Homo sapiens: one gene and its partner. The protein of the gene in region 2 interacts with the protein of the main gene of each other region in a biochemical or structural test. Each region holds a gene or a part of one and is shown on either strand. Other genes may lie near its edges.

Region 1 (3,829 bases), on a different chromosome or scaffold from region 2:
GAGTTAATTTTAAATATTTTATGAAGTGTGAATTATACCTTTTTAGATGGAATTTGGAATACTGAATCAGTGACATGCAGTTTATCAATATCTTTCCGTTTGTCCTCAGATTTCCAAGTTCTGCAAGCACAAGTTTCTTTGACTTAGTTACCTTTTAACTGTTCATTGAAATCATTTTCAATGTCTCTCATGGCATTTAACACATAGCACATTCTATAAATTTTTTATTGGTTACATTCTGAGTTCTAATTGAGAGTTGAACTTACACACAGAATTTAAGATAAAAAATGACCATGTGAAGACACAATAGTATAGTCCAGGGATTGGCAAAATTTTGGGTAAGGAATCAGATAGCACGTATTTTAAGCCATGAGATCTATGTCTTGGCCAGGTGCCGTGGCTCAGGTCTTTAATCCCAGCACTTTGAGAGCCCGAGGCTGGTGGATCACTTGAGCCCAGGGGTTTGAGACCAGCCTGGGCCACATGGTGAAACCCTGTGTCTACAAACAACGCAAAAATTAGCCGGGTATGGTAGCATGCATGTGTATTGCCAGCTACCCAGGAGGCTGAGGTAGGAGGATGGCTTGAGCCATACAGCTCACTGCAGAGGTTGCAGTGAGCTGAGATCGAGCCACTGCACTCCAGCCTGGGTGGCAGAGTGATACCCTGTCTAAAAAAAAGAAAAAAAAATCTATGTCTCAATTCTGCTGTTGAAGTGTGAAGGTAGTCATAAACAATAACTAGTGTGGCTGTGTCCCAATAAAACTTCATTTATCAAAACAGGTGGTGGGCTGGAATTGTCTTGTATGTTGTAGCTTGCTGACTACTGATAGAGTGGAAAGAACATGCACTAATCACACAAACCAAAGTTTTAGTTGAGACTACATCACTTATCACCTTTAGGGTCTTGGGGAAGCGTACTTAACATCTCTGAGCATCACTTCCCTGATTAGTAAAAAATATGATTTAGAAAACTGCAACTACCTTGCAGTTTTTGTGGGAATGTCATAATAAGACAGGACATATGAATAATTGAGCACACTTTTATATATAGGAACCATGGTTATTATTATCAAATAAACTCTCCAACGGAATAATTACTTTGCCAACACGTTTTCCATTTATTCTTTTATCCTTCATTACATAACTAGTTTGAAAGATTGGAGGCGACCAAAGACCATTTTATAATTTCACTTATGGCTGAAGATGTTTGGTAGAAGCCTCATAAGAAAAGTAATCTCATTCCTTTATAAGAATATACTTTTAACAACTACTTTTTAACTCATTGAAGAACTACCTTAATGATCAGTGTTATTTTTATGGGTTTTGTTCCCTCCATTTTTGTTATCTGCGTACACCAATTTTCAATCAACATACTTCAATTTAATAGACAAAAATTTCTTCAAATGACTCAGAAATTAATTAGATCTAAATCCAAAAGCAGAAAGATTTAATTATCTTTATATAATGCTCAGTAATATAAATGCAATAAATACAAGAAAATGATGATCTTTGAGTGTCTTCCAATGCCACTCTGCTCAATAAGCAGCAGTGGCCATCAGTGAAATTGATAGCAAATTCTCAAGTCAAAATGTGCTTCACCTCACTAAGCTGACAAAGTCAACATAACATGCACAACAGGGATAACTGAGTTCTCAAAACTCTCAGGTATTACTTCTGACCTTCTTCTCCACTCTGTGCTCTTTTGAGGTTGGGAAGACAAGATAGGGTGTGTGTGGGACACCTCCGCTCAGGGAAGCCATCAGCTCTGGTGTCCCTACAGCATTTATACCTTGCTAGTCACATAACCACTTGGCACCTATTTTGTAGGTGTACGTTATCAATTACAGATTACTCATAAATTAAAGGCTAACCATCAATTACAGATTATTAGTAAATAATTATGACCTCAAAGAACAACTGATTGGTTTGATACATGGTAACCTTATGAGGACTCTCATTTATCTCGTTTTTTTAAGTTATATACCTATCTCTTTGGGGTTGCACTACAAAAATATAAAATATGTTGCATAAGATATTTATAAAAAATAATTAATTATAAGTTCTAATGGTGTGGTTTAGTGGCATTCTTTTTTTTTTCTTTTTTTCTGAGATAGGGTCTCAATCTGTCATTTCACTCCAGGCTGAAGTGCAGTGGTGTGATCTCGGCTCACTGCAACCTCCGCCTCCTGGGTTCAAGTTATTCTCCTGACTCAGCCTCCTGAGTAGCTGAAATTACAGGCATGCACCACCATGCCCGGCTAATTTTTGTATTTTTAGTAGAGATGGGGTTTCACCATGTTAGCCAGGATGGTCTCGAACTCCTGATCTCATCATCCCCGACCTCGGCCTCCCAAAATGCTGGGATTACAGGCGTGAGCCATTGCACCCGGCCTAGTGGCATTCTTTTTTAAAAATAAATTTAATTGTGTATATTTAGGGTATGCAACATGATGCTATCAGATACATTAGACACTAAAAAATTACTATATTGAAGCAAATTAATATATTCATAATCTCTCATAGTTACCTTTTTTGTTGTTTTTGTGGCAAGGGCAGCTAAAATCCACTTATTTATCATGAATCTCAAATATAGTACAATTTTATCACCTACAGTCCTCATACATTAGATCTGTACACTTTTTCATCTTACACATCTGCTACTTGCTTGGATCCTATGGCCTATATGTCCCTATTTTCTACCTACTTTTCCACCCCTATTAACCCTGTTTTTTACGTAGTCTCTGTATATTTGAATTTTGTTTCAAGCTTCCACATATATGTGAGATAATGTAATATTTTTCTTTCTGTGTTTGGCTTATTTCACTTAGCATAATTTTGTCTGGGTTCATCCATGTTGTAAATGGTAGGATCTTGTTTTTTTAGGGCTGACTGATATTCCATTGTATCTATGTACCACAATCTTTTTATCTACCTATCTATCAGTAGACACTTTAGTTGTGGCTATTATGTTTTTCTTTTTTTCTTTTTTGGAGACAGGGTCTTGCTGTCACCCAGGCTGCAATGGAGTGGTGTTATCATAGCTCACTGTAACCTCAAACTTCTGGGCTCAAGAGATCCTCCTGCCTTGGCCTCCCAAGTAGCTGAGACTACAGGCATACATTACCATGCCTGGCTAATTTTTAATATTTTTTGTAGATATAGCATCTCACTCTGTTGCCCAGACTGGTCTCAAACTCCTAATTCAAATTTAGAATAGAGTATGACAATTCTGTAAAATATAAAAAACATGTCCACTCCGTATAGGAAGTTATACAATGAGAAGAAGACAAACACTATTTACATTACTCTTGATAAGTTTTTTACAAAGAAATAAAACACTTTAATTTCTAATGTTTTAAATTCTGGTTTGCTAAATAAATAAATATTAGTTTTAGTGTTTTTAAAATTCCTTATATAGTTATAAGTGATCTTCCTGCCTCAGCCTCCCAAAGCACTGGGATTCCAAGCAAGAGCCACTGTGTTGGGGCCCTTGGAAACAGATATGCTGAAATCTTTTCTTGTGGATCTACACCCAGAAGAGGGATTGCTGGGTCATATGCTACTCTATTTTTAATTTTTCTTTTATTTTTAGTGAATATGTAATAATTGTATATAATTGTGGGATCCAGAATTATATTTCCATACATGTATACAATGTGTGATAATCAAATTAGGGTAATTAACATATCCATTACCTGAAACATTTATCATTCCTTTGTGGTGGGAACAGTAAAAATTAAAAATTCTCTCTTCTAGATTTTTGAACATATGCAATAAACTATTGTTAAGTATATCACCCTACAGTACTACAGAATGCTAGAACTCA
Region 2 (3,829 bases):
ATCCTCTCACCTCAGCCTCCCAATGTGCTGGGATTATAGGCATGCACCACCACATCCAGCTCTCATACATGTTTTATAATCAGCTTCATTCACTTTATATATTATCAGTATTTCATCCTGAACTGCTTCTTCATTTGTTGTTAGATCTTCTCATTTTCAGTCTCGGAGAATTTTGAGAAAAAAGCTGCTTCTGTCAAATACTGTTTTCTGTGGAGCCTCTTTTTATGTTGCAGATTCATCCATTTATGTTATCTCTTTACAGTGGCCACGTCATTCACTCACTTGACATGCACGACATTCAATTATGTGCACTTAGCCAGAAATAGAGAATTTAAATAGTGGTGAGTCTACCAGTCATTCCATTCAAGAAGGGTATGCTCCAGAGAGGTAAGTGTGAGGTATGTGATGCAAACCTGCCATTCCCACGTTAGTCTCTCGTTGGGTATCTTGCAGAGCATAAGTACATCAACATGCTGTTTATCATTGCAGTGTTTAAAATCTCAGCCCGTACAATACAAGCCTATTACCTTAGCTAGCACTCAACTTAAGAATCACCCTAGCCATCTAGCCATCTGTTCAAACGCTGGACATAAAAGTGACTACCTGCTCTACTGAGAATTGATGGGGCAGTCTCCAATATGATTATGCCTTCTCTAGAATTTTGTCAAGGGTGATTTTAGCTATATGTGATTTTTTTCCCTTACTAACATTAGAACCTAACCCCATGTAAGATATGACTATACCATATTCATCACCAAAGCCAGAGAAATAAACATAAATGTAAGATTACCAAGTTTAATGTAGGAAGGCGGGCTGAGTCACTGCACAGCTTCGATGTGGCTCAGCCCTCACTGCAGATATCTACTGCAGCCCAAGGGTGTTCTCAGTGCTGCAGTTTAGAAGTGGATGTGGGAGGAGAGGCCTACTCTTGGGTTTCCCTGCACAGCTGGCTTCAAATAATTTTGGCTGAAAAGGATCCCAAGCTAATTGTCACCCTTTAGTCCCTGCACCTTCAAATTAAGGGTGTTACTGGAGTCCTACATTTCCAATAAAAATTCAGCTTTCTTGAGCCTAGGAAGTGAGAGCTCTCCACTTCTTCCTTTGATTTGAAATAGTTCTCCAAGTCTAATAGTTCCCCGAATTCCTTAAAAATTTTTAAAGGAAAATTGTATGTAGGTAGCAACTTACTCTGGTTTCCAGTGTTTCTGCAGGTTTCCTCCATTTGATATATAAAGGAAAATACCTTGTACACAATCCGGGCATTCCCTTATTTTCTTTTTCTTTTTTTTTTGCCATGTTGGCCAGGCTGGTCTCGAACTCCTGACCCCAGGTCATCTGCCCGCCTCGGCCTCCCAAAGTGCTGGATCACAGGCATGAGCCACTGGGCCCAGCCGCATTCCCTTGTTTTCTTAATAAGGAATACATTGATATATCATATTAAGCATGCTTAATTAAATTAAAAAATGTTTGGGTAAAACAGCATCTATGAGCTGCAAATGTCATTTATATTTAGAATGAATTTATAACATGTCTTAGAAAAAAACAAGCCGATTCTTGAACTTTCTTGCCAAATACATAGCACAACTGAAAGCCCCTGCTAGCTGCAACTTCCTAACTGGATTCAGAATTTCAGTTGGATTTAACAGGGGGGAAAAGATGACCTAATCTAGATTTTTAAATGTGGTAAACACCATTAAGACTTCCACAAAAGTTTTCATGAATCCTACAGAAACATTCTACAGAGCTAGGCAGTTCTAGGACCTTAATGATAAGTTAGTTCAAGTGCTTGGACATGCATTAATATTCTGACAGTTACTGAGTTCTTATTAGGTTCTGTCAACGGCATCTATGCCAGATTAAAAGGCATGAGAGAAAGAATCCATTCTGCTCCTGGTGATGCCACCACCAACAGCAGACAGCAGTCGCCCCTGTGAGCTCCTACAGAGGGACATATGGCAGATAAACAGGGGCTCTAGTAGCAGCTACACGACAAGGGAGGCAGACGATGGTGGACTCTGAACAGTACTCATCCTTGCAGGGTCAAAGGCTTTCTGTAATCCTTACCTCTGGAAACACCATCTTCCTCCCTTTTGTTCCTCTATTCCTTCTAATAATTTGTAACCTTATTCCCTAAAAATCATATTCCTTCCTTTTTAAAAACATGCAAAGTGGTTTCTGCTCCTGTCTCCCAACAGGACACTGATAAAAGCAGGTAAAATAAGCGATTTATCCACAGTCATGTTCAAAAATGCAAAATAGAACACAATTTGATGTGACTCCACGTTTCTGGACCTCAAGGGAATTCCTAAACATTTACTTAAGCTAGAATGAAAACAAAGGGGAGATAAGCCAATAGTTATTTATTTGTTTATTTTTTCCAAAAAGAATCACAGAAAGATTAAATCATAAACTAATCAAGCTTTGGGTTAAATAGGTTAGGATGTAAGGGATAAAGGACAGGAATGACTATTACTAAACAAAGAAAATTGGTATATACATACACATATACTGATAACAAGTCAATATTGTAATTTTAATATCTTTATCATGTGGAGTTAAAAAAGAAAAGAATACTATAACAGTACCATATTTTTAGTTTAAGTGTTCTATGGTCCTGTATAATTTAGAAAAGGGTTTATAATCTTAATTTTTACATCTTGTTTAGTTAAGAATGCATGAAAAATTTCAAGGGGAACCAATTAAATAGCAGAAATAAAAAGGAGTGTTGGGGAGAGCAAGAAAGGAAGAAAAATAAAAAAAATTTTAAATACCAAAAAGAAACCAAACATAAGGAGAAACAAATCCCAATATGTTAATAACCACAATAACCATACTGAAGCAACAGACTGTCCATTTAAATCCAGTGGCTGGATTAAGGAAAAAAAAAAAACCTAGCCACTTGTGGAGTACACATTTAAAAAAATCTAAAAACAAGGACATAGGTTGAAAGTAAAAAGACTGAGGGTGGGTGGTGGTGGTAACATACCAGGCAAAAAATCCTTACCAAAACAGAGCTAGTGCAGTGCACCTACTTTTTTTTTTTTTTTTTTTTTTATTAAGATACATGGTCTTCCTATGTTGCCCAGGCTGGTCTAGAACTCCTGGCCTCAAGCAATCCTCCTGCCTTGGCCTCCCAAAGTGCTGGGACTGCAGGCGTGAGCCACTGTGCCACTAATAAAATGGCATGAAAATATACAAAGCAAAAACTGACAGAACTATAGGGAGCAACTGACAAGTCCACTACTATGGAATTCAACACAGCTTCCTCAATTATTGATAGCTATAAAAGATAAAGTAGTTAAGATACTTGATTTTAATTTTACATCTAACAATTAGGGAATGCATAGTCTTCCACAGCACAAATGGAAAAACTGACTAATACTAGGCCATAAAGCAAATCTTAACTATTTTCTTCCAGACCACCATCTATGACTGCAATTCATTAAAGTCAGTAACAACAAAAAAATTATAAATCTCTAATATTTAGAAATTAAAAACATACTTCTAAATAATTCCTGGTTAAAAAAGAAAGCACGAGTATTTAAAAAAAATAGGAGTTCTAGACCTACCCGGGCAACACAGTAAGACCTTGGCCTTTACAAAAAAAATTTAAAAATTAGATAGGTGTCGTGGTAGATGCTTATATGCCTATAGTCCTGGCTGCTTGGGAGGCTGAGGTGGGAGGGTCACTTAAGCCTACCCTGGGAGACAGAGTGAGACCCTGTTTCTTTAAAAACAAACAAACAAAACCCTACACATACCAAAACTTGTCAGGTATAGCAAGTATCTCTCAAGGGCTTATATCAGAGAAGAAAGCTAAATCTCAATG

What was found.
Region 1: the proteins of ARPP19 (region 2) and SNCA form a complex in vitro, tested with the Homo sapiens proteins (one study listed by BioGRID).

The regions. Positions count from the first base shown.
Region 1 is NC_000004.12:89,830,333-89,834,161, reverse strand, and holds part of SNCA (alpha-synuclein), read left to right. Parts: intron 1-3,829. UniProt on the Homo sapiens protein: Neuronal protein that plays several roles in synaptic activity such as regulation of synaptic vesicle trafficking and subsequent neurotransmitter release.
Region 2 is NC_000015.10:52,558,903-52,562,731, forward strand, and holds part of ARPP19 (cAMP-regulated phosphoprotein 19), read right to left. Parts: intron 1-3,829. UniProt on the Homo sapiens protein: Protein phosphatase inhibitor that specifically inhibits protein phosphatase 2A (PP2A) during mitosis. Inhibition of PP2A is enhanced when ARPP19 is phosphorylated.